Homo sapiens: one gene and its partner. The protein of the gene in region 1 interacts with the protein of each later gene in a biochemical or structural test. Each region holds a gene or a part of one and is shown in the gene's direction. Other genes may lie near its edges.

Evidence for each region.
Region 2: the proteins of CYBA (region 1) and NOXO1 form a complex in vitro, tested with the Homo sapiens proteins (3 studies listed by IntAct).

What each region holds. Positions count from the first base shown.
Region 1 is NC_000016.10:88,640,657-88,648,053, reverse strand, and holds the end of CYBA (cytochrome b-245 light chain), read left to right. Parts: coding exon 1-9; intron 10-878; coding exon 879-953; intron 954-1,215; coding exon 1,216-1,299; intron 1,300-1,856; coding exon 1,857-1,938; intron 1,939-2,624; coding exon of another isoform or gene 2,625-2,888; exon of another isoform or gene 2,889-4,482; coding exon 4,483-4,701; 3' UTR 4,702-4,765; downstream 4,766-7,397. UniProt on the Homo sapiens protein: Subunit of NADPH oxidase complexes that is required for the NADPH oxidase activity that generates, in various cell types, superoxide from molecular oxygen utilizing NADPH as an electron donor.
Region 2 is NC_000016.10:1,975,706-1,993,094, reverse strand, and holds NOXO1 (NADPH oxidase organizer 1), read left to right. Parts: upstream 1-11,625; 5' UTR 11,626-11,915; coding exon 11,916-11,981; exon of another isoform or gene 11,982-12,075; coding exon 12,076-12,156; exon of another isoform or gene 12,157-12,363; coding exon 12,364-12,439; coding exon of another isoform or gene 12,440-12,454; exon of another isoform or gene 12,455-12,550; coding exon 12,551-12,728; exon of another isoform or gene 12,729-12,913; coding exon 12,914-13,098; exon of another isoform or gene 13,099-13,191; coding exon 13,192-13,305; exon of another isoform or gene 13,306-13,552; coding exon 13,553-13,670; exon of another isoform or gene 13,671-13,745; coding exon 13,746-14,043; 3' UTR 14,044-14,178; downstream 14,179-17,389. Other genes in the region: SYNGR3 (synaptogyrin-3), read right to left, coding at 23-232, 317-459, 884-1,121, 2,894-2,992; GFER (FAD-linked sulfhydryl oxidase ALR), read right to left, coding at 7,067-7,229, 8,152-8,348, 8,619-8,876; TBL3 (transducin beta-like protein 3), read right to left, coding at 14,410-14,543, 14,624-14,782, 14,875-14,946, 15,034-15,137, 15,295-15,353, 15,425-15,581, 15,669-15,739, 15,811-16,041 and 5 more. UniProt on the Homo sapiens protein: Constitutively potentiates the superoxide-generating activity of NOX1 and NOX3 and is required for the biogenesis of otoconia/otolith, which are crystalline structures of the inner ear involved in the perception of gravity.

The sequences.
Region 1 (7,397 bases):
CTACTCCATGTATCCTTCCACCTGAGGCTGGGGTGGGCGGGGAACGCCCAGGGCAGAGCTGGGGAGCCACTTCACAGTGAGCTGTTTGCCTCCGCTCCCCACCACCGCAGCCAGGCTGGGACACAGGGTGGGCTGTGCACGGGTTGGGCAGCCCAGGCCCCAGCAGCCAGGCCCCTCGCCAGGACCATGTGGCGATCAGCGGCAGACCCGCCAGTCTAAGTCCTGGTGAGTGGTGGGCAGGGGGTGTCACCAGAGGGCCAGGGCCAGCACTGAGGCCTCCCTGTTGGACTGCTGGGATCCCCTCTGCCCGCTCCTGTCAGTCATCCCCCTTGACCGGCCCCTCTACCTCCTCTGCCCCATCTCAGCCCTGCCGCCCAGCCGGACCTTGCGACAAGGAGCACTGGGCAGGGTGGTGGGAGGGAGGGCGTGGGCAGCCCCGAGTGCCAGACCTGTTGGAACCTCCCGTGGCTGCCTCCTGGCTCTGTGACCTCAGGCAGTGGCTGCCCCCGACCTTTTTTGAGACAGGGTCTCGCTCTGTCCCCCAGGCTGCAGTGCAGTGGTGCAGCTGTGACTCATGGCAGCCTCCACCTGGGCTCAGGCCACCCTCTTACCTCAGCCTCTGGAGTAGCTGGGACCACAGGCACACACCACTGCACCTGGCTTTTAAATTTTTTGTAGAGATGAGGGTCTCACTATGTTGCCCAGGCTGGTCTCAAACTCCTGGGCTCCAGTGATCCTCCCGCCTCAGCCTCCCAAAATGCTGGGATTCCAGGCATGAGCCACCGTGCTCGGGCCCCTCTCTGTGTTGTCTTCAGTAAAGGGAGTTCCCTGTGGCCCCTCAGGCTGAGCTGGGCTGTTCCTTAACCACATGGCTTCAGTGTGGCGGGCGTGTTTGTGTGCCTGCTGGAGTACCCCCGGGGGAAGAGGAAGAAGGGCTCCACCATGGAGCGCTGGTGAGTCTCCTCCTGCTCTGGGGTCTCTCCGGGGGCTGCGGGGCCCAGGCAGGGCTCACAGGGTTGGGTGGAGCTTGGTTTCTCACTTGGAGGCTCCGGAACCAACCCTTTGGTGCTTGTGGGTAAACCAAGGCCGGTGCCTGCCCGGTGTGTTTTGTGGGAGGAAAGAGGCCTGGGTGCCCTGGGGTGGTCAGCAGGGCAGCAAAGGAGTCCCGAGTGGGAGAGGCCCAGCCGCGCCGTCTCGCCTTCCTCCCTCCCCCAGGGGACAGAAGTACATGACCGCCGTGGTGAAGCTGTTCGGGCCCTTTACCAGGAATTACTATGTTCGGGCCGTCCTGCATCTCCTGTGAGTCCCCGTCCCGCACCCCCTCTAGGGCTCAGGAGGGCTTGGAGCCGACCCTCCCCACTGTCCCACCGGCCGGGCTGCCTGGACAGGAGCCACCCCCACTTACCTCAGTGTTTTTCCAAACAAAAATTCGGGTCCCTGGCTCTGGCAGGGCCTGTGTCTGCTGTCTAGTGTGCAGGATTTGTAAGGATCCACTCCAAATCCGAGGAGCTCCGATCCGTCGCCAGGGTCTGGGGTCAGCATGCACTGCTGGGGGGTCTTGCCTGGGCTTCCTGGTAGGGTGGAGGGTTCCGTGCTGTGTGTCTGCTGGTTACTGCCGGCTGAGGCCAGGACACCCACACGTGGCTGCTTCCTCCGAGCAAGTGCACCAGAGCCGCTAGTGTCCACATCAAGGCTGAGAACACCCAGGACCGAAACAAGCCCCGGTCCGCGCACGTCCCCTGGGTCTGCAGTCTGCCTTGTCCTGAGACTTTGTGGCCTTGGCCCCCAGACCTGGGGCTCCGTTCCCCTTTCTGAGTGCCCTTCTGTGTCCCTGCCTCTCACCCGCTGTCCCCCAGGCTCTCGGTGCCCGCCGGCTTCCTGCTGGCCACCATCCTTGGGACCGCCTGCCTGGCCATTGCGAGCGGCATCTACCTACTGGTGAGTGGCGCCCTCTGAGGTCGGCCCCGGCCACCCCCATCCCCAGCCCCTGCCCTGACACCCTCGGACACGCATGGCCCTTGAAGCCGGCTCTGTAGGCTGAGCCAAGGCTGGGAGCAAGTGTGAGCCTGGGCGTGTGCTCACAGCACGGCGGGGACGCAGCGGTTGCTGCTGCCATTTTTGGCGTGTCTAGTGTGTCGGGTCATTTCCTTGCATTTCCTCATTAACCCGCACCACAGCCCTGGGAGGGGTACTGGGGTCCCCACTTTACAGACAAAGATGCGGAGGCTCAGGGAGGTGCTGTGACTGGCCTGGGGTCACGCAGCCGGCCGAAGACCGTGCCTGCGCTTGGGTCCCATTATCAGGCTTTTCTCACCTAAACCCTATTCGCGCTGATTCATGGGCGGTGCCAGGACGCAGACATTTTCTTAAACTGCCGACACCTGCGTTTGGTTTATGACTGCTGCACCCTGTTAGAAGGCTGCCCATCCCATGGGATACAGTGATCTCTCTGAGAGGCCAGGGATGGGTGGGAGGACAGGGCGCAGCCTGGCCAGGCCTTGGGTGAAATGCCCTCTGCCTGCCCTGGGCTCCGGAACAGACGGCTGCAGGCCACCTCTCACTGCGGGGGTCTCTGGGTGGACAGAGCCCTCAGACTTTGCTTATTTAAATCCTTTTGTCCATAGAGCCAAGTCCCTCCTGCCCGCAGAGGCAACTGCCCTCCCCTTGCTGTGCGTCTTCTAGTGTGTGTGCGTGGGAAAGGTGCAGCACTTTCTGTGTACGCCTTCCGCGTATGGAAGTGGAGTTCTGTTTCAAGCCTCACTGACCTGCCACCGGCAGAACTCTCCTTTAGAACCCCTTCCTGTTGCCAAGTGCTCATCTGGGCTGTTGCTTTGTTTTCCGGGGGCCACCCGCATCCCCCCCGTCTCCCTGCTGCCACGCACAGCTAGTGGCTCCTGGAGACCTCGGGAGGAATTCCTTGTGCTAAACCCAGAGAGGAATTGCTGGGTCAGGCATCAGCCTCTGCACCGTTCACCCTGCCGGGCTCAGCTGCTCCTCAGCAGACAACCCACCACCAGCCATGTGGCCCCATCTCTCCCACCATGCACTAGGCTTTCTCCCACGCTTGCCAGTTTCACAGCACGAGCTGGCCGTGTGGAGCTTGGACTCGCCCTTCTCTGACTGTGGATTTGAGCTGTTGGAGTTTCTTCTCCCTTGAGTTGCCTGTTCAAATCCTTTGCCCATTTTTCTATTGTGGTTTTTGTATTTTTCTTTTTCTTCTTTTTTTTTTGAGATGGAGTCTCGCGCCATCGCCCAGGCTGGAGTGCAGTGGCGTGATCTCGGCTCACTGCAACCTTCGCCTCCTGGGTTCAAGCAATTCTCCTGCCTCAGCCTCCCGAGTAGCTGGGACTACAGGCACGTGCCACCATGCCTGGCTAATTTTTGGTATTTTTAGTAGAGACGGGGTTTCACCGCGTTAGCCAGGATGGTCTGGATCTCCTTGACCTTGTGATCCGCCCGCCTCGGCCTCCCAAAGTGCTGGGATTACAGGCGTGAGCCACCGCGCCCGGCCTGATTGTCTTTTTCTTAAGTTGCAGGAAGTCCACATATATTTTAGCTATTTAGCCTTTGTAACCTTTAAACACTGGGGATGCCTTCATGCTTTCTGGTGAGGGTCTGTTAACTTGGCGCGTGGAGTCCTTCACTGCACGGAAGAGCAGAGGTTTCCCTGTTCACCTGCTCTATGGTCTGTGCTTTGTGAAAACACCTTTCCCTGGCCCTGGGTCCTGCCTTCACGTTCCTGCCTTTTCTTCTATCAGCCTTCTAGTTTTGCTTTTCAGAATGGAATGTTTCCGTTTTGGAGTCAGGTAGGATCACACATGTCCAGTTTCTCTTTCTGTTCATGACGTATATGATGTGACATATTTTTCCACCAGATATTATGGGATAGAAGATGAAAAGCACACACTCCCAGGTCCACTTGACCTGTTGCAGTGGAACCTCCGGGCATGGGCCCAGGAGTCTGTATTTTTAGTAAAAGCCAGTGGAATCCCGTGGTCTTCAAGCTCTCCCCCCACCACCCCCATGTGCAGAAATGCCTGGGCACCCTTGGGGGGCTGCCGGCCAGCGTGGGTGAATGGCGCCCACCAGACGGAGCAGGGCCTGCTACTCTCCTGGGCCACCCCTCCTGCTGGACCTCGGGCCTGCCTCCCTGCCTTCCCTGCCCTTGGCACCTTGAGAGGAGAATTTGAGTACTAGAATTTGCATCTGGGAGTGTCCACCACGGGATCTTCCAGAAGCCCAGGGGTTCGGGCCCCACTCCTGGCATGAAGAAATAGCTTGGGCTGGTGTCAGGCCGACCCAGGTCCTGGCTGTGTGGCCTCGGGCGCGTCACTTAACCTCTCTGAGTGGCAGTCACACCATCCTGCGTGGGATTCAGACTTGAGCCTGTCCCAGGGCCCCTAGCGGGGTGGGCCTCCGGGGAGGGAGGGAGGGAGGGAGGGCGGGCGCTGGGGCGCGGCTCAACCCTTCAGTGCCCCGCAGGCGGCTGTGCGTGGCGAGCAGTGGACGCCCATCGAGCCCAAGCCCCGGGAGCGGCCGCAGATCGGAGGCACCATCAAGCAGCCGCCCAGCAACCCCCCGCCGCGGCCCCCGGCCGAGGCCCGCAAGAAGCCCAGCGAGGAGGAGGCTGCGGTGGCGGCGGGGGGACCCCCGGGAGGTCCCCAGGTCAACCCCATCCCGGTGACCGACGAGGTCGTGTGACCTCGCCCCGGACCTGCCCTCCCGCCAGGTGCACCCACCTGCAATAAATGCAGCGAAGCCGGGAGCGCGTGAGCCTCTGCCTGGGGCCGGTGGGCGGGGCTGGGGTAGCGATGGTTCCCGAGGCCTGGGCAGGCACCCCGTTTCCTGCCAGCCGGGCCGCATTCCAGTTTCATTAACATCAGCATCGCCTTCCTTCTCAGCAGCACACGAAATCCCGGGTACCGTATATTCCACGAAATATAGTACCTGGATTCCAGGTGTGTGCCTCCCTAGAAAGGTCCTCCCGGGCCTGGAGGAGGCAGCAGAGTCCTCCCTTGACAGCTCCTGCAGGCCCTGCAGGCCCTCCACACCTAACGCCTCCCTAAGGGGCTTGGATTCCAGAGGAGGCCGCTGGCGTTAAGTGAAAAGGGAACAGGGTCGGAGCCACGTGGTGAGCCTCTACCCTGCGCCTCTTTTCCGTAGAAGCTGGGGTGAAGCTGGTGGCGGATGTGGCCTTGTTTGCCCCCACACTGATGCTGGGGGGCCCCCCAGCTGCCCAGGACGCTCAGGCCAAGTTGCAGGGGCTTCTGGCCACCCCTTCCCCTCACTTGTGCGGAGGCTGTGGCTGGCTGCACACACACCTGCCCACAGGTCCTCACCACCACCCCAGCCCGGTGCCCCCAAAGCTTTGCCCGGCGTCAGCCACGTCCCCCACCTTTGGGCTCTCGCCAAGGCACCCACTCCCCTGAGGCCGGAGAAGCCCTTGCCTGCTGCTTGTCCACCTGCTCTCCCAGCAACTCACACTTCAGAGCCAGGGTCCTCTGTTCCTGGGGGCCTTCAGAATCCACCCCCCACCAGCCAACACTCGGCACCATACAGACGTCTCAATCCAGCCTCATCTCAGCCGTCCCCCCAGGTCACCAAGCTTCAGGTCACCCTTGAAACCCCCACACCCCACATCCAATCCTGGCCCAAATCCAGACCCCAGCTACATGGGCCATCCCCACCCAGGCCACCTGCCGCCTCCCGCTCTGCCCTCATCCCCTGAAACCATCCTGATGCTGCCATTGAAACCCAAAGCCTCACCCCAGTGCCTCCGGCTCAGAATCCGCAGGCTCAGAACCCACAGGCTCAGCTACCTCCAGTGACAGCCACAAGCTTCTGATGGCCCCAGGGCAGACATGATCTGCACCCCCAGCGCCCTGCCCTGCCCCTGCGGTCCCCCTCTCACCTGGCATCAGCCACGCAGGCCACTCTCTGACCCTTGGACACACGCAGCATGTGTCTTCTCAGGGCCTTTGCATGGGCTCTTCCTGCTGCCTGGAGCTGTTCCCTGCATGGCTGCCTGGCTCCTTCCTCCTCCCCTTCAGGTCTTCGAGGCCTCCCTGACCCTCTGCTTAGAACTGCAGCCCCTTGGCCGGGCGCGGTGGCTCACGCCTGTAATCCCAGCACTTTGGGAGGCCGAGGCGGGCAGATCATGAGGTCAGGAGATCGAGACCATCCTGGCTAACACGGTGAAACCCCGTCTCTACTAAAAATACAAAAAATTAGCCGGGCGTGGTGGCGGGCGCCTGTAGTCCCAGCTACTCAGGAGGCTGAGGCAGGAGAATGGTGTGAACCCGGGAGGCGGAGCTTGCAGTGAGCCGAGATCGCACCATTGCACTCCAGCCTGGGCCAGAGCGAGACTCCTCAAAAAAAAAAAAAAGAACTGCAGCCCCTCCCCCAGAGCCTCTGTCCTGGACTCACTCACAGACTACACACCACTTGTTTCATTAGTCACCGTGGAGGCAGGAAGGGTTTTCACCATTTTGTTCTCGGCCTGTTCCCAGTGCCAGGTGCTTAGTAGAAACTCATATGGCTGGGTGCGGTGGCTCACGCCTGTAATCCCAGCACTCTGGGAGGCCGAGGTGGGAGGATCACTTGAGCTCAGGAGTTCGAGACCAACCTGGCCAACATGGCGAAACCCCGCCTCCACTAAAAATACAAATATGAGTTGGGTGTGGTGGTGCACGCCTGTACTGGGAAGCTGAGCTGGGAGGATCGCTTGAACTCAGAAGGTGGGGGTGGCAGTGAGCTGAAGTCATACCACACTGCACTCCAGCCTGGGCAACAGAGCGAGACCCTTTTTCAAGAAAGAAAAGAAACTCAATAAATGTGTTGAATGAAAATTCCATCTCCTGGACAAGGGCCACCACCTCCAGGAAGTCTTCCCTGAGGCCTCTTGCTTTGGGAGTCTGAGTGGAGTCCTTGTTCTTCTGTGCAGCACCCCCACCCCCATCTCCAGGCACCTGGACGCAGTAGGTGGGTGAGCCAGGGGGCCAGGCAGGGGAGGGGCTAACAACTGCCCAGCAGCCCCATGGCAATGTCAGCCCTTGGGGCCGGGGGCCTAGAGACTGAGACCCTGAGACTGTCACAGGCCTGGGCCCCCTTTCCACGACTGGGGCTGCTCCCCCCGGGGCCCCTTAACTAAAATCTCCAACAGAGCCTGGGTCCCGAAGCGTGGCTAGTTCACCATCAGGGAGGGCGCTTGGCCTTGGATGTTGATCCGAACCACGAAGGCTGGGGGCCCTGCCTTGAGCCGACAGCCCTGCAGTTCATCCTCAGAGACTTGCCTTGGGGGCCGAGAGGGTGCCCCTAGGCGCTCACATCATTACAAAGCATAGGGCTCAAGGCACTGCTTGAGGAAGGAGGCTGGTTCCTGTTCCCAGGGGTGTCCT
Region 2 (17,389 bases), about 87 Mb from region 1:
CCTGGTCTGTGCCTGCCAGCCGCTAGTAGGCGGGCACCTGGTACCCTTTGGGGCTGGTGTCCAGGGTCTCGGTGAAGGGCGGGCTCTGGTAGGTCTCGGTGCCCTCCACGCCGCTGCCCACCGGATAGCCGGGGTAGGCCTGGCTCGCCCCGGTGCTCAGCTGTTCGGTGGCGAAGAGTGACATGTCGGTGCCCAGGCGGAACCGCTGCAGGGCCTTCACGGTGAGCGCCACCTGCGCGGGGCGGGGTCAGCGGGGTCAGCCGGGATCAGCCGAGCGCCCGCCCCTTCGCCCCGCCCTCCCGGGCCCCGCACTCACCCAGCTGAGGATGGAGAAGAAGCTGAAGGCGATGGCGGCCCGCGCCGCGTCCCCCGCCTGCGTCGTGGCCGGCCCTGGCGCCGTGCGCTGCCACTGATTGGTGAGGAAGCAGAAGCCCACGAACCACAGGAAGGACCAGAGTCCTGCGAACAGTGCGGCGCGTCAGGGCGACGCTCCACGCGGTGGCCCACGGCGGCCTCGCCCGGAGGAGGAAAGGTCGGTGGGCCCGAGGCTTGGGGCGCCTCGCCTGGGCTCGCCGCGTGGCGCGAGGTCCCGCCTCCCTCTCCTGCGCTGACCCCGCCCACCCGGGAGCGCCAGACCCGTTCCGCGCCCAGGCTCCGCCCAGACCCGGGCCCCGCCTACCTAGAAAGTCCCGCGGCGCTCCCCGTCCAGGCTCCGCCCCCTCCCCGCCCACCCGGGAGGCCCATTGACACTCCCTGCCTCAGTCCCCGCCCCTCGTCACGGCCACGCCCAGCTGGAAACTCCAGCGGTGTTCCCCGCCCAGGCCCCGCCCCCTCCCCGCCCACCCGGAAGGCTCTCCGCGCTCACCGCCCCGGCCCCGCCCACCTGAGAAGCCCAGGTCCAGCAACACCGCGCGCCGGCGGTCGCGGACGCTGCTGATTTGCTGGAAGCGCACATCGAGCAGCAGGAAGGCGGCGCAGGCGAGGAAGGCTCCGAGGCCCAGCGCGACGCCGAAGCGGCAGGCGCCCGCGTTCCCGTTGAACACGCAGCGCAGCTCGGGGCCGCTGTCGGTGTTCACGTAGCCCTCGTTGACGATGGGCCCGAAGACGGCGATGGAGAACACCTGCGTGCGGCGCGGCGCTCAGGGCCCTGCGGCGACCCGACCTCTGCGAGCCCGCCTCGAGCGCCCACGCCCCTGGGCCTGTCCCTGCGTTCCCAGGCCCGTATCTGGGTGGGGGGCGGTGTCACCTCTTTCTTTCCCGAACCCTCGCGTATTTAGTAATTATTGACAACACGGGCCGTTTAGTGAGCATCTACTATGCCCAGACATTGTGTTAAACAGCCACTTTACATGCGTCCCCTCACCAAATCCTCAGAAAGTCCCCGTGGGATCGCCATTGTTCTTATTCTCTTTATAAATGCGGGGGACATTGGGACCCCAACAGGTGAAGTGACTTGTCCGGGATCACATGGCTGACAAAAGCCGGGGTTGATTCAAGCCAGGTACTCTGCACCGCGTGGGCCCGTGGAGTCCCCTCAGAGCCCACTCAAGAGTGTGGGAACAGGAGCCTTCACCTGGGCCCGCGATTCCCAGGCTGGAGCCGGAACGGCGAAGGGGAGGTGAGAGTGCAGCAGGCAGAGCGGGGCGGGAGGGAGGGTATGGAGGCAGCGGAGCTGTTGCTTCCTGCGCGGTTGGGAACTGTCTGGCCTGTTTTCTAGCATGCAAATAGGGTGACGGGCACAGCTCATGCAGTGCTGGGACAGACATGTCCACCCAGCTTCCTGCACGTGGTGGGTACCCGAGGGATGACAGCCCCCACGTGACTGATTATTAATATCACCTGTAAGTGTTTGGGCTGAAAAGATGACACCGTTGACCTCTGAGGTTCCGTCAAACCTCAATGCCTCCTGCCCACCAGTTCCGGGAGACAGGCATGAGGGGGACCGCAGTCATTTTAACCAGCGCTGCACGGGGCAGCCCTGTGTTTCCAAGAAACGACCTCCAGCCTCAACCTCATCCCTTCGCTCCTTTCCCGCTCCAGCTCCGAGAGTGGAGCCAAGGGGGAAGCCGGGACATGCACTTGTCCCCAAGAGTGGGCCACAAGTCGGGACGTGCGCTCGGACCAAAACGCAGCGTCCTGCCTCCCGGTCTGGTCAGAGCCACTCCGCAGGGGAGGCCAAAGCCCCTGCCCCACCGTGGGCACCGCCCTCCTCCAAGACAGGCGCCGAGGTGCGGCTGGCCCAGAGGTTGCCACCTGGACAAAACCCAGAGCTCGGCACCCAACTGCCACCTCCCCTGCCGGAGGGAAGGAGCAGCAGGGCCCTCCCAGGGACGCCCCAGTGGGCTAGGCTGCTCCCAAACCTGCCTTCCACACCGCCGCCAGGAAGCCCTCCCAGCCCAGAGCCTCTCCTCCCTCAACTCACAGCTGGAACTGGGGGCCAGGGGACAGGCTCCCTGCCAAGGAGACCCGAGGGTGTGTGTGCGGGGGAAGGGGAGGCGCTTCTCGGTTCCCGTAGCCCCCTCCTGCCCCTCGGAGAATTCCGTCCCCACCCCGTCCCTGCTTCCAGGTCACGAGAACAGGAAAAACGGAGTAAGGGCTGCGGAAAGGGACTGAAATTAGACCCGGGGAGGAGGTAGGGGTAGAGGCGACCGGCGGTGACCTCTCAAGGTCCCTCTCCGGCGCCGCCGGCCCCTCCTCCGCCCGCAGGTGGGCGCGCCCTGCCCGGTGACGTCACCCCAACCTGAGGCCGGCGGGGGAGGGGCCGGCGAGGATGAGAGTGAGTGAGGTCGGGGGGCGAGAAGCAGGGGGCAGGGGGTAGGGGGCAGGGGGCTGGTAGGGGCCTGAAGGTCGCGAGGCAGGGGCGGGAGCGGGGGCCCGGGCAGGGACCACTCACCCAGGACGCGACCCGGAGCAGGGTCTGGGGCCGCCGCGCAAAGCTCACGGGGTCCAGGGCGGCCCCTGCGCGGCCCGCGCCGAAGGAGGCGCCCTCCATGGCCGGCCCGGGCGGGACGCGCGCCCCTGGCGCCTTCTGTCCGCCTGTCCGTCCGGCCGGCCCCGCCCGAGGCCGCTGCCGCTGCCGCTGATGCTGATGCTGATGCTACCAACGCTGCAGCCGCTGCCGCCTCCCGGGAGCGCGCGCCGGCCGCGGCGGGGACGCGCGGGACGGGGCGGGGCCGCGCCCGCGCCCCCCACTGGGTCCATGCGCGCGGGGCCGGGTCCCTCCTCTCCCTCCGCCGCGCCCACCTCCCATCCCCCACCCTCACCTGCCTGCCCCGGTCCCGAGATGGAGACCATCCTCAGGAACCCACCAGCCAGGTCCCCGGGGGCAGGGTGGGGCTCGGGTGCTGGGCGCAGACTTTGCTAGAGCCGGGAGGACAGACAGGAGGAGTCCGCTCCTCTGGGAAGGGCACTTGGGTGAGGGAGTAAAGGGGTAGGAGGTCCACGGGCTGCAGCATCTTCCCCCAACCCACGGGAGAGGGGACCGGCTCCCTGGCCCTGGTCCCAAGAAGACCAGATGGATAACTGGGGTCTTTCTCATGGCCCCCCACTGTGCTCTAGCTGCTATCACAGCTTCTAGCCTCTGGCGGGGAGGATCTGGTGGGAAGAAAGGCGTTGGCCCCAGGAGCACCTGTTGAGGGAGGGGACAGAGCCACCGTGGCCAGCGCCGCTGGGAGTGTTGGTTTCGGTGTCTCCGCTCCTTGCCCGTGGCCAGGTGGTGGTGCTCCCAATGCCCTCCCTACTCCTGGGTCTCCCCAGCGTACTTGCGGCGCCTAGTCTGGAATGGAGGGCAGGGAGCGGCATCAGAGACTAGGAGTCGGGTGGGGGTGGTGCCTGGCTGCCCTGTGTCCCGCTGAGTCCCCTCCACAGACCCCAGCCTTGGGTGCAACAAGGTCCCTCTCCTCATGTTCCTAGCAGGCTGGAAGTTCAGATGACTCCTAGGTTTCTGTCTAGAGCACTGAGATGTCTGCACTGACATTTACAGCGCCAAGCGCTTGACCTGTGTAGTGGCGGAGACTGTTACCACCCTGTACTTCAGATAATAAGCAACCCAGGTCCCTGCTACACGAGCCGGGTGCACAGATGGTGCTGCGTGGCCCAGCCCCCCTGGAGCTCATTCTTCAGCCTTGCTGGGCACAGGTGGGCAGAGCAGGTGTTGCCAGAGGCGCTACTCACTGTGTTCCAAGTCCATCACACTGTGCGTCCGATCACAACCCCTCTCACCTGTTGGCCACAGACCTCCCCTCTGTGTCATTCATTCTCTACTTCATCACTAACATCAGCACCCAGACATGCTGCACTTTCTCCTAAAAGCCAAACACTGTTGACCCCACCTCCCCTCCAGCTGCCTTACGTTACTGCTTCCTTTAGCAGCAAACTCTGCCTGCAACACCCTCCTCTCTCTCCCTCTGACCCGGCAGAATCAGCTCCCACCGCCACCTAAACTCAAGGTTGCCACTGACCTCTCCGTGCCAATCCCAAGGGCAAGTCTGATGCTGCTGTCGACTCATTTATTTCTTTAGTTATTTATTTATTTTTTGAGTTACAGTCGCACTCTGTTACCCAGGCTGGAGTGCAGTGGCGCAATCTTGGCTCACTGCAAGCTTTGCCTCAGGGGCTCAAGTGATTCTCCTACCTCAGCCACTGGAGTAGCTGGGATTCCAGGTGTGCCACCGCACCCAGCTAATTTTTTTTTTTTTTTTTTTTGTATTTTTAGTAGAGACGGGGTTTCGCCATGTTGACCAGGCTGGTCTCGAACTCCTGACTTCAAGTGATCTGCCCACCTTGGTTTCCCAAAGTGCTGGGATTACAGGCGTGAGCCACTATGCCCCTCCTGGAGGTCCTCCTCCCTCATGGGTCCTTCCTCTGTGACCTGTGAGCCTTAGGAGCCCAGGGCGCGATCCTGGGGAGGTCTCTCCCTCTGTGCTAACTCCTTTGGTCTGCGTGTCAACAGCTCTGGAACACCAGCTCAAGCCAGAACTTTTCCTTGCACTAGAGTTCCACTGGCCTGGATGCCTTCAAAAACAGACTCTGGCCTGGCGCAGTGGCTCACGCTTGTAATCTCAGCACCTTGGGAAGCTGAGGTGGGTGGTTCATGAGGTCAGGAGTTCAAGACCAGCCTGGCCAACACAGTGAAACCCTGTCTCTACTAAAAATACAAAAATTAGCAGGGGGTGGTGGTGGGCGCCTGTGATCCCAGCTGCTCGGGAGGCTGAGGCAGGAGAAATTGCTTGAACCCGGGAGATGGAGGTTGCAGTGAGCCGAGACTGCTCCACTGCACTCCAGCCTGGGCGACAGAGCTAGACTCTGTCTCAGAAAAACAAAACAACAACAAAAAGAAAAACAGATTCTAAGGCAAAGTGAAGTTTTATTCAGGAGTGAAACTTTAAGGAAGACAGGGAAAAAGGGAAGGCGGTGGGGGGGGCAGGGGGGCAGGGGAGGGACAGCAGATACAGGCGGTATGTTCCTAAGCTGAACACAGCCTTCCCAGAGGGCCCAGCTGCTTCCTGAGGCACTCACAGGCCTCGGGAAAGGCCAGAGAGAAGCGCGCTGTGTCTGGGCGAGGAAGGGACACCTCCTCTCCTGGCTGCCCCCCATCTCCCCTCTCTTATTTGTGCCACCTGGCCCCTCTGGGCAGCCTCTACAGAAGCCAGCAGCCGCACGGGGCCAATCTGGTGGGGACATAGCAGCTCCCTCCATGGAGGCCTGAGGCGGCCATGCCAAGGTGGGCCTGCGCCCAGGGAAAGGCTGAGACTCCTGGAGGATAGAGGTCCCTGGAGTTTTATGACCACAGGACACACTGTTGCTGGGCTGCTCTGGCTGGGGAGGCCCAAAGGCTGGGTCCCAGTCACCCCCCACCTTGCTGCACTCAGCCTTCTCCATCTCTGACCCACACGGCGGCTCCCAGCAGTCTCCTCGGACTCCATCCTCACCCCATGAGTTCTCTGGCTCTCCCTTTAACGTACCCCGCATCTGTCCCCGCCGTGGGGTGGGTCTTCCTCTTGGTGGTCACTCGGTGACTGCCCCGGCTTCCTCCCCACCCCTCCTGTTCCACCCTTACCTGCCTCATCCCAGCTCAGCAGCCAGAGGACCCTTCAAAGCCACATCACTCCATGCCATCCCCTGGCTCCAAACCCGCCAAGAACTTCCTGTCAGGGGAACTAGGGGTAGAAGCCATGGCTTTGCTGGGGCCTTGGAGACCTCGTGCCGTCTGGCCTCCCAGTACTCCTACATCAGCTACTCTGGCCCCCCTGCCCCAACCAATCAACGTCCTTGCTGTTCCTGGCTCACTCTCACCCTGTGGTCTCTCTCTCCTGAGGAACCAGGACCCCAGCAGGAAATGCAGCTGAGCACAGAGGGATGGAACAAGCCCTGTCTACTGCTTTATTAAGCCCCAGCAGAAAATATACTGAAGCCAGGTTCTCAGTCACTTCAGCGTTTCATTTGGGCTTCAAACTCTGATGAAGTGAGCCCCACGAATCCCCTGTGGACAGGCATGACACAACGCTGGCAGGCATGTGCCAGGCAGGGAGAGGGTAGGATGGCTGGTGGACCCTCAGAAAGACCCGACCTGAGCTTTCCCTGTAGGGACTGAGCAGAGTGGAGAATTGAGCCCCCTAAAGTGAGCAGCACAGAGCCATGGGGGGCAGGGGCATCCCTGGCTGCATAGTGGGAAGGCAATGGCCTGGCCGCCAGGGACAGGCACAGGGATGCCCAGCCAGGCCCGCTGTCTTCCCGTGTGAGGAGTGAGGCGCCAGGGTATGCGGTGGGCAGGAAGCTACATCCTGAATGTCAAGGGGCAGCCCAGGCTGCTCCTCCTTCCCTCCCCTGCAGTTCAGCTGCAGCTCCTTGGGGTCTCCACTGAGGAGGGGGCCAGTGGGTACCTGCTGTGGGCACCTCCACTTCTGCTCCAAACCTAAGAGGGGCAGGGCAGGTCCCCACAGGCAGTGTCCTGGGGACCACCCAACTGAGACACAACAGGCTCTGGCTGTGATGCACTTTAATGAGTGCCCTGCCCCTATCCAACCATGCCTGGCTAGCTGTCCCATGAGCTCTGGCTGACCACCCTCTAGTCACAGGAGCCATCCTTCCAGCCGTCGCGCCAGCGCTCATCCACTTTTGAGCAGTCGAAGTCAGGCTTGCCCAGCTTGCGGTTCACTTCATTGTGCAGGTGGCACAGCCACTGTGTGAAGCATGCCCGGGTGCGGGTGTCTGGGTGGTTCCTGCACAGCCTGTGTAGGGAGAGCAGGTAAAGAATGAGAGGACGCAGCGGCTCCACTGCCCCTGCCAGTTCCCTGTCTGCTGTCAAGGAAGGAGAGCTGGGGCACTGCTGTGAACTACACCTGGGAGTGCCCTTATGCTCCAAGGTACAGGCACTCCCAGAACAGGGCTGACCCTGCAGCTCCCCGGGTGTGATGAACTCCCAGGGCTGCGCAAACACCCACCTGGACAGCTTGGCAAACTCCAACGAGGCCTCAAGGCAACACATTACAGCACAGACCTGGCAATTTTATAAGCTCCTAACACCCAGGAAGCGGCATCCAGTGTCCCTGGCCTCAGGCAGAGTGTGGCCTGGGTGGGGCTGGGCACAGCCTTGTAACTGAAAACTGGACTTGTTTCTTAGCATCTGAGGGCAGGCCCTGGTGCGTCAGTTCAGCAAGAGACTTCATTCTAACTGACCAGCCTTATAGCAACAATGGCGGCTCTACCCTATACATCTGGCCTAGAAACACCTGCAAGGGCCAGTGCTGGCTCTTGGATCCCTCAGTGAGGAAGAGATGGCTCTTGGGAGCAAAAGCAGTGGATTTCCAAGATTTTAAAACCAGAAGTCCTACTCTAGAAGTCAGGCAAAGTGGAGTCTTCCCTAACTTGCGGGAAACCGCCTTCAGTGCCAGACAAGGCAGGGAATCCCTTCCTGGAAGCCCTGTGGCTGTGGCAGGAGCAGTACCCAGCAGCAGATCCCGACAGCTTGGCTTCTGAGACGAGAGGAGGAGGCTCAGATAGCCCCAGTCCTCACCTGTTGGAGGTCCCTGCTCCTCAGCAAACTTCTGCCACCTCTGCATCCGTTTCTCTACGTTCCCCGCTATAACGTCAGCCAGGAGCCCCAGGCCCAGGCTCCAGTGCAAAGCTCTGCTGCGTGCAAACACATCTTACCTTTTTCTTAGGTCTTCAGCACACTCCTCACAGGGGTAAAACTTAGAAAATAAATGTATGAACTGGGCCATGTCTTGCTGCTGTTCTGGGGTGGGCAGGTCGGGGTAGTAGGCGGCCAGGGTGTGGAGGACAGCCCAGCTGTGGCGGCCCAGTTCCTCGCGATCCGGCGGGCAGTCCTCCCTAAACTTGGTGTCCCGCTGCGGAAGCAGGCCGACCGAGAGTGAGTTCATTCTCCGAACAAAGGCGCCCAAAGCTCCCCACTGTACGGCCCAGCCGGTGGCCCACTGGACTCCGGCCAAAGTCCTGCAGACGATCCAACCCACGCGCGGATGAAGGCTGTAAGGCCGGGCCTACCCGGGGGGCAAGGTTCAGGGACAGGCAACCCTGGGAAGCTCTGCCGGGGTACCTGGGCGGGGGCGGGGACAGGGGCTGCGCGGGGCTGGGAGAAATCGGGCAGGGAACTGCACCTTCTGCTGCGTCCGCATCCACGTCTTGAAGTCGACGCAGGCCCGGCACGGCCGCCTCCGGGAGGCGTCCTCGGCGACAGGAGAATCGGAGGTCGGCGCCTGGGCTGGCGTCGAGGCCGAGGCGGCCGCGTCTCTCCGCCCCGCGCCCCGGCCCCGCGCGTCGGTCGCCAGGTCGTCCATCATCTCGGAGCGCGCGCCCCCCGGCAGGAAGAAGAGGTTCCCGCCGTGGAAGCGGCCCCGCTCGCCGGGCGCCGCCATGTTGCCCGCGCAAGGCCTGCCGGGTCAGCTCGGCCTCCAGATGAGCCTCCAGGTCAGCCTCCAGGCCAGCGCGCGGCCACAGGAGCCGGAGGCGCGCGCCGTGCTCGCGGGGGCCGGGCCCGAGCCGGGGCTGGGGGCAGAGTCGGGGGCGGTGCCTGCTTGCGGGCCCGTGTGGAGGCGGAGCCAGAGGCCGCGGCGCTGGCCGGGCCCGAGGACAGGGGCGGGGACGGAGCAGGAGGGTCGGACCCTGCTGGCGCCCTCAGGCGTCGATCCGCGGCGCACGCAGGGGTTGCGCCGTCCGTGGCGGCCGTCCCGCTTTCTCCAGTAAAAGAGCAGTGTGTGGCGCAAGGTGCGCCTCGGCCGCGCTGTGGACCCGAGCTGACACCCAGGCAAAGTCCGTGTTGCGGCCCGCGACGTCCCCATCGCTCCGTTCTGAGTGTCCTGCGTGCCTGCGGCCAGGCTTTGTGCCCTCCGCTGAGGGGCGCGTCCACCCGCTGGCTGCCAAGCGCTCTCTCAACGCGGGCCGGGCGTGACCGCACAGATTGCGGCGCGCGCTAGGGTCCTGGGCTCTTGTCCCCTCCCTGGCGCCATGGCAACGGGCGTCTGGCAACGCAGGGCGCGGCGCGGCCGCAGAGGGTTGGCGCGTGCCTTGGGCTCCCTGGCGCCCCTCGCCGGCTGTCGCGGATCCTAGAGCCTGGGATGAGGGGTCGGGCTCCCGGTTGGAGCGGCCTCTGGGATTCCTGTGCCTCCTTGCGTTCATTTATCCATTCCGCTATTATTTGCGCAGTGACCGCTCTGTTCCAAGCGCTGTTCCAAGTGCTGGGCAGAGCAGGGAACACAATTCTGTTCCCTGACCTTCTCTGTTCATAATCCAGTGGTCAAGACAGGAAAAAAAAACAAGGACTCACACTCATAAATGTTCACGTACAAACTGGTGGGTCCATGCAAGGGTGTAGTAAATCTGGAAGGCCTCCTTGAGGAGGTGACCCTTTCTGAAGGATGAGGAATCAGCTGAGGAGCGCCTTCGAGACCAAGCCCAAGGTGGCAGGGTCTTGGCATTTTGCAGGAACAAAAACGCCAGTGGGACGCTAGGGAGGGTTGTAAGGTGGGAGGGGAGATCCAGGGACGGACAGGGGCCCACCAAAGACTTGGTCGGCAGCTTCGGGGATTGGGAATTTATTATAACGGTAGGAGGGAAGATGCTAGACAGTTTTGGGCAAGGTTACCCAATCTGATCCCATTTCAGTTTGCTGCAGATTCCGCTGGCTATCATATGGGGAGTGGATTTCTTTTTTTTTTTTGAGACAGGGTCTTGTTCCGTTACCCAGGGTGGAGTGCAGTGGCGCGATCTTGTTCACTGCAGCCGCGACTGCTTAGGCTCAAGTGATCTCCCACCTCAGCCTCCCAAGTAGACTACAGGCACACGCCACCACGCCCAGCTAATTTTTGTATTTTTGGGGGGCACAGATGGAGGTCTCAACATGTTGCCCAGACTGGTCTCGAACTCCTGAGCTCAAGCAATCCCCCTGCCTCGGCCTCCCAAAGTACTTGGATTACAGGTGAGGCACTGTGTCTGTCCTTGGAGTGGATTTTGTAGGGGCAAGTGAGGAGCATACAGATGGAGGGTGGGGTGTACTATTCAGGCAAGAAAAGAGGGTAGGGGAGGAAAAAGTGGAAACCATGCAGGGCTGATGGGGTGTGGGGCAGGAGCTGTCAGCTGGGGTAGGCAGGTGGCCTCAGAATCCCTCTAGGCCTCTGCTTGTGAATAAATCCTCCCCAGCTTCTCCTGTCTTCCAGGGGAGCAAGGTCTCCCCTGGGTTCACACGCTGGACCCCACCAGGTCAGCTGGGCCCTCAGCTGAGACAGGGAGAAGGTGACAGCTGGCTGGGGGAACCCTGCAAATCAGCCCTATGTGAGCAGGTGTTCATTGCCCATGCCAAGACCAGGGACAGCTTGAGGGCATGAGAGAGAGTGCTGGTGGGACAGACACACAAAGGCCCTTTGTTGCAGCCAGGGCAGCTTCCTGGAGGGATGCCTTAGAGGCTGACTGCTCCCTGAAGGGGCTGGAGTAGGTGCATCCCAACACAGAACTGGTGGCCCCAGCACGAGGAAAAACCACTGTGTGCCAGGGTTGAATGTGGCTTCCGAAGCCCGAACTATAAGGAAGCAGCCAGAGAGGTGGGGCACCTGGGCGAGCCTCTGCCCAGGCCATGTTTGCAGTAAGTCATGGCAAATCGTGAATTGAGAGGTGGTTCTCAAAACAGCCCTAGTGACCACTTCCCTGACCACCACCCCCACCCACCAAATGCCAGTGACTGCACAGATGGGCCCTCTTTCTCCTACCCCAAGTCTCCTCACTGCAGGGGAACCCCTGGGGTGAGCCTGTGAGGTCTGCCCCTCCCCCAGCATGTATAGAACAGCTCACAATAATTACGCATTTAACACACATTTCCTCCTCTATGAGTTGGGGACATTAAGAGACCTTTCCTCCAGCATTAGGATTAAGTCAGACAAAGCACTTAAAGCTGTAAGCACTGAGTCCTTGGTTCTGCACAGAAATCCCCAGGCCAGTTCAAAGTTGTTGGGCGCACCCTGGCAGGGCAATTACCTCACAGGGTAGGGGAATCCAGAGAGGTGGGCAGGACAGGTGGCGCTTTGATTAGCCCTGCCTTCTCCTCCCTCCTCCTGTGGCCAGAGGCAGGCAGGAGGGCCCCAGGCAGCAGTCCCGCCTACCCTTCGCCCCTTCTTCAGTCTTGCACGCCTCCAGGGCTGGAAAGCTCATTCTTCTTCTTCCTCCCAGCAGCTCTGCCTGGAAGTCCCCCAATCCCTGTGCTCCTGCCCCCAGATCGTGGGCTTGGGGGACAGCAAGAAAGCTGCAAAGGACTCAGCTGGGGCGGCTCCACAAGGACCCCACAGGCTTGAGGTGTTGCCAGGATTCTATCCCAGGGGGTTTTCTGGGTCCCCCAGAGCCCTCTCAAGCACGGGGAGGCAGAAGGGTCCTCGCCCATTTCAGGAATCTGCAGCCTGGAAGCCACAGCCATGGCAGGCCCCCGATACCCAGTTTCAGTGCAAGGGGCAGCCCTGGTGCAGATCAAGAGGCTCCAAGTAAGACCTGGCTGGGTCCTTAGTGGCCCCAAGGGATAGGAAGGGGGTGCCTGGACCAGCACCTCCACGGCACTCCCAACTTTTTGTCCCCCAGACGTTTGCCTTCTCTGTGCGCTGGTCAGACGGCAGCGACACCTTCGTGCGCAGGAGTTGGGACGAATTCAGGCAGCTCAAGGTGAGTGACCCTGGGCCACCCTGATGCCGCGGTGGCGGCTTCCCCACGCGGCTGCCTCCCACTGGACTGCCTCCCATCAGTGACTCCCACTGGAGGCCCTTCGTCCCTGCTGAAGCTCCCAGCCCCTGCCATCCGGGTGAGGGACCCCGCCCTCTCAAGGGTGCACAGTGGGCTCTGGAAGACCAATGCCCTGGTTCCCGCCCTCAGAAGACCCTCAAGGAGACCTTCCCGGTGGAGGCGGGCCTGCTGCGGAGATCTGACCGCGTTCTCCCAAAGCTTCTCGGTCAGGCCAGCCTGGGTACGGGAGCGGGGAAGGCGGTGGCTTGCCTGGGGGCGCCAGGGACCAGTGAAGCCCAAAGCGGCGTATCACAGTACGTTTTTGTGGTGCCTTAAGATGCACCACTGTTGGGACGCGTGGGGCGCACGAGCCGCGGCCTGGCGCGCCTGCAGCTGTTGGAAACCTATTCTCGGAGGCTGCTGGCGACTGCAGAGCGCGTGGCACGGAGCCCGACGATCACTGGCTTCTTCGCACCGCAACCCCTGGACCTGGAGCCCGCGCTGCCACCCGGCAGGTGCCTGACTCGCCCCAAACTCCCAGCATGCAGCGGCGTTTGGAGCTGGGAGAGGTCCAGGGTGGGGGGGAACAGCCAGCGAATAGGGGCAGAGAGTGGGAGGCTGGCGGTCTTGCCGGGGTGGCGCCCCCAGTTTCACCCTCCCCATCCGCCTACCTCTCACTCGTACGGGCTGCCCTTCCCAGCCGGGTGATCCTGCCCACCCCAGAGGAGCAGCCTCTTTCTCGCGCTGCGGGCCGCCTCTCCATCCACAGTCTGGAGGCTCAGAGCCTGCGCTGCCTGCAGCCCTTCTGTACCCAGGACACGCGGGATAGGCCTTTTCAGGCGCAGGCCCAGGAGAGCCTGGACGTGCTGCTGCGGCACCCCTCAGGTAGGGCCCCCCAAGAACCCAGGGATTTGCTCCTCTGCTCCTGGACCCGAGGGAGCCTCGAGATTTGAGTCCCTGCCCGCTTCTTGCGCACAGGCTGGTGGCTGGTGGAGAACGAAGACCGGCAGACCGCCTGGTTTCCAGCGCCCTACCTGGAGGAGGCGGCCCCGGGCCAAGGCCGGGAGGGAGGCCCGTCCCTAGGGAGCAGCGGTATGCGCCTAACCCCACCCCTCACGCCACCACTGCGGCTTGACCGTGTGGCAAGACTGGGCCAGAAGCACCGCGGGCAGGGCGGGCCAGGAGCCCGTGCTTGGTCTCCGCACCTAGAGGAAGCCCCGAACCGGTCTTAGAGCGGCCCCGCCGTCAGCAGACTCAAGCAAGGAGAATGTGGAGAAGGGTGCGGGCGGGCCTCGTCCTCTGTGGCCCCGCGGTGACTCCAAACACCCACTCCCACCAGGTCCCCAGTTCTGTGCTTCCCGCGCCTACGAGAGCAGCCGCGCAGATGAGCTGTCCGTGCCCGCGGGGGCGCGCGTGCGCGTGTTGGAAACGTCAGACCGCGGCTGGTGGCTATGCAGGTACGCGGGAGCGGGCGTGGGCAGGGCAGGCTAGCCGAGGCGGGCGGGGCCCTAACCACACCCCGCCCCTCGCAGGTACGGCGACCGGGCGGGCCTACTCCCCGCGGTGCTGCTGCGGCCGGAAGGGCTGGGCGCTCTCCTGAGCGGGACGGGGTTCCGTGGAGGAGACGACCCGGCGGGTGAGGCCCGGGGCTTCCCTGAACCCTCCCAGGCCACCGCCCCTCCCCCCACCGTGCCCACCCGACCTTCGCCGGGCGCCATCCAGAGCCGCTGCTGCACCGTCACACGCAGGGCCCTGGAGCGGCGCCCACGGCGCCAGGGCCGCCCTCGAGGGTGCGTGGACTCTGTGCCGCACCCCACGACGGAGCAGTGAGCGCGAGGATCCCGATGAGGGGATGGACCGCGCCATCCCAGGGCTGGGGAGGAGCGGGGAGGGCGGATCTCCCTGGCCAGCAGGGATGGGAGGGGGCCATTTGCTGTTCCTCTGAGTAAAGCTTGTTCTGCATGACCCCCACCGTCTAAGCGTGCGGAGCCGCGGGCTGGATCTCTGCCAGGCCAGGGTGCGGGATGGGCGTGGCAGGGCCGAGACCATCAGCTCCAGTGCCCTTCTGGCTGGCTAGGTAGGGTGTTGGCCAGGGTGGGGGGCTGGACTGCAGTCCAGAGAGACAGAGCCGGCCAGGAGAGCGGCCTTTATGGGTTTTCCAGGGGTTCAGGATGGACTGGAGAGAGGCCGGACCGGCTAGGGCAGTGCGCCTTTATGGGTTTCCCAGGGGGTGGGGGCGGCGGCCGGCACAGGGAGCTTCATGTTGTGCCACAGGAAGTCCAAGAAAGCGGCGGCCTGGAGGGTCCTGCTGAGCCGCTGAAAGTGCCGCTCTGGGGTTGGACAGAGGGAGGTCAGGGGGGTGGTCCACACGCCCACCAGGATCCCCCAACCCCAGGCTGTGCCCACATACCAGTGTAGGGCAGCAGGGCCTCAAGCGCTGCCCGCACGCCTTCGTAGGCCAGCAGCTCCTCGGGGGCCTCTCGCCTCAAGAGCACACCCAGCACGGCCTGGGCCTCGTGGCAGTGCCGCGAGTTGGTGTTCCACGTGACGCAGAAGCGCAGCAGGGCCTCTGTGGGCAACAGGACCCTCATCGTCTTGCCCAGCCAATCTGCCATGACTGGCCCTTGCCCACCGGGCCACCCACCCTGACTGGCCGCCAACCTTTCTGGTCGCGCCGCAGTCGGAGCATGGTGGCTTCCAGCTTCTCGCAGGCCTCAGGGTCCCTCCGGATGGCTGTGGGAGAAGGGAAGGCTGAGCTGGGGAAAGCAGAGCCCAGTGGTCCGAAGACCCAGCCCCTCGCCCCCCGGGGTGGGCACTGACCCTGGATGACAGTCAGCACGGTGTGGGGCCGATCCAGGGAGATGGCCAGGCCCAGCGCCCGCAGGTACCGCTTCTCATGCAGCAGGTTGTCCAGCTCTTGCTGCCTGTGGGGAGGGGAGGAGAGGCCACTGAGGGCCGCTGGCTGGGGCTGCAGGCAGAGCCATCGGAGTCAGCAGGCAGGGAGCCTGGCACTCAGCCTCGTTTTCCCTACAGCACAGAGCAGGGCTGATGCGGGGAGGGGCGCCACTGCCCTGGCCTTACCTGACCACCTGCTCCTCTTGCCTGGCCTGCTCCTCTGCCTGCTCCGCCTCGGTCACATCCTGGGGTTAGACTAGGGTCAGATGGGGCCTCCACTCCACCCCGACTCTTCCCTGCCCTTGGGGCCCACAACCTTCCAGAGGATGACTCGGGAGTCACTGGCCCCAGTGAGGGCGTGGTCGTCCAGCCGGCTGCAGTGCAGCCCCCAGACCTTGTCCTCGTGGGCATCCAGCGTCCGCACACACTCGTTGTTCTTGATGGTCCAGAGCTTCACGAGGCCATCCGAACCGCTGGGTTTGGGGTGGGGAGAGGCTCAGCGTCAGGCAGGTCCCCCCGCCACCCCCCACTCCATCGCTGCCCCACCCCAGCCCACTCACCTGGACAGCAGCTGCGTGCCACGGCTCACAAAGGCCACCTTCAGCACAGAAGCATCGTGCCCCTCAAATGTCTGCAAGGTGGGGGGTAGGGCATGAGATGTCACCAGGGCGGGAAGTGGGGAGGGTCTGGAGCGCCACTTACCTTGAGACAGCTGAAGTCCTGGAGTGCCCAGAGCTTGATGGTGCCATCAGCTGAGGCCGTGGCCAGCACCTGGTCCATGGGAGAGAACTGGACGCACCAGAGGCCACGCCGGTGGCCTGAGAAGACACCCAGCAGCTGGCACTGTGGCAGGGCCCAGAGCTTGGCCGTGCGGTCCTGTGAGCCTGTGGCCAGCAGCTTGTCGTTGGGGGCAATAGCCACGCTGTTGATGTCCTGGCAATGGGAGAAGGTGGTGGCTCAGCAATCCCCCATCTTCCCCCAGCAAGGGCTTGGCCACACCCCCACCCCAGTGGCTATGGAGTCACCTTATCATGGCAGCGCTGAGTGGTCTGGGCCTGCAGGAGGATAGGGCCGTTGTCTGGGGCTGTGTTCTTGGACAGCAAGGCTTTGGGAAGAGGCCACAGCTTCACAGTGCAGTCCTGGCTGCCTGTCACCAGGAAGGACTCCTTCAGCCTGTGACCCAACAGGAGAGGAGGAGACACAGCTGAGCCCCAGCCAGCCCTGATGGCCAGCTCCCCACAGGGCCAGGCTGGGAGCCCACGGTCCAGACCACGGGGCCTGTCCCAGGATGCGGGTTGGCCTGGGTCACCCCCAGGCACCTGTAGGATCAAGCCCTGTCTACATTGTCCACCCGCAGCACCGGGTGGCTCAGCCCTAGCCACAGGACCCTGTGCCTACATGCAGGGGTCACCTCTCCACCTGGGCCTCGTGCAGGGTCATTCTCTCTGCCTAATGCCCTTCCCCCTTTAACCACTTCACCAGGGCTACTTCTGAGGACTGACCCCGAGGCACCTAGGGACTCTCCTGTCCTGTTCTGTTCCACATCTTTGGGCTGGAGCCTCAGAGCAAGCCAAAGCTGCCACTGCCTCCCCAGCTCCCTGAGCGGCAGCCCTGCTGGCAGGCCTGGGCCTCCACCTCCCTGACACCCCTGGGCCCAGCCCCGACTCACTACCTAGAGCAGCAGACGGTGCCCACACTGTGTGTGTGACCGGAACCCTGAGCCACGCACATCACCTGGCCAGCCTTGTTCATTCTCCAGATACGGACGCTCTGATCCTGGGGACAGGGAGTTGAGGAGAGAGGCTGGTCCATGGGCCTACTGCGTGGCCTCCCCGCCTGGTGCCCCTGCCCCTACCTCTCAGGGTGCCTCACCTTGGCACAGCTGGCAAAGAGCCACCCCTTCCGGAACACATCCAGGGCCAGGACGATATCTGAGATGTTGTGGGGAGGTATAGGTCACACAGCAAGACGGGGGAAGGGAAGCAAGCAAGGGACCGAGGCGGCTCCCAGGGTGTCAGGTGGGCTGGCCCCACTCACCCGTGTGGCCGTGGAGGATCTGGCAGGCTGACGTCTGCAGCTCAAACACTTTTAGGCAGGGGCTATTGGAGGCCACGACAACGTGGGAGTCCTCGGGCCCAAGAAACCGGACATCCAAAACCTCCTCACTGTAGCCAGCGAACTGCGGGGTGGCAGGGAGCAGGAGATGTGAGCCAGGACCTGTGTAAGAGGAGGGCTGGTGCCCGCAGCCTCCAGACTGAGCAAGGGCAGGTGTGCACCTGTT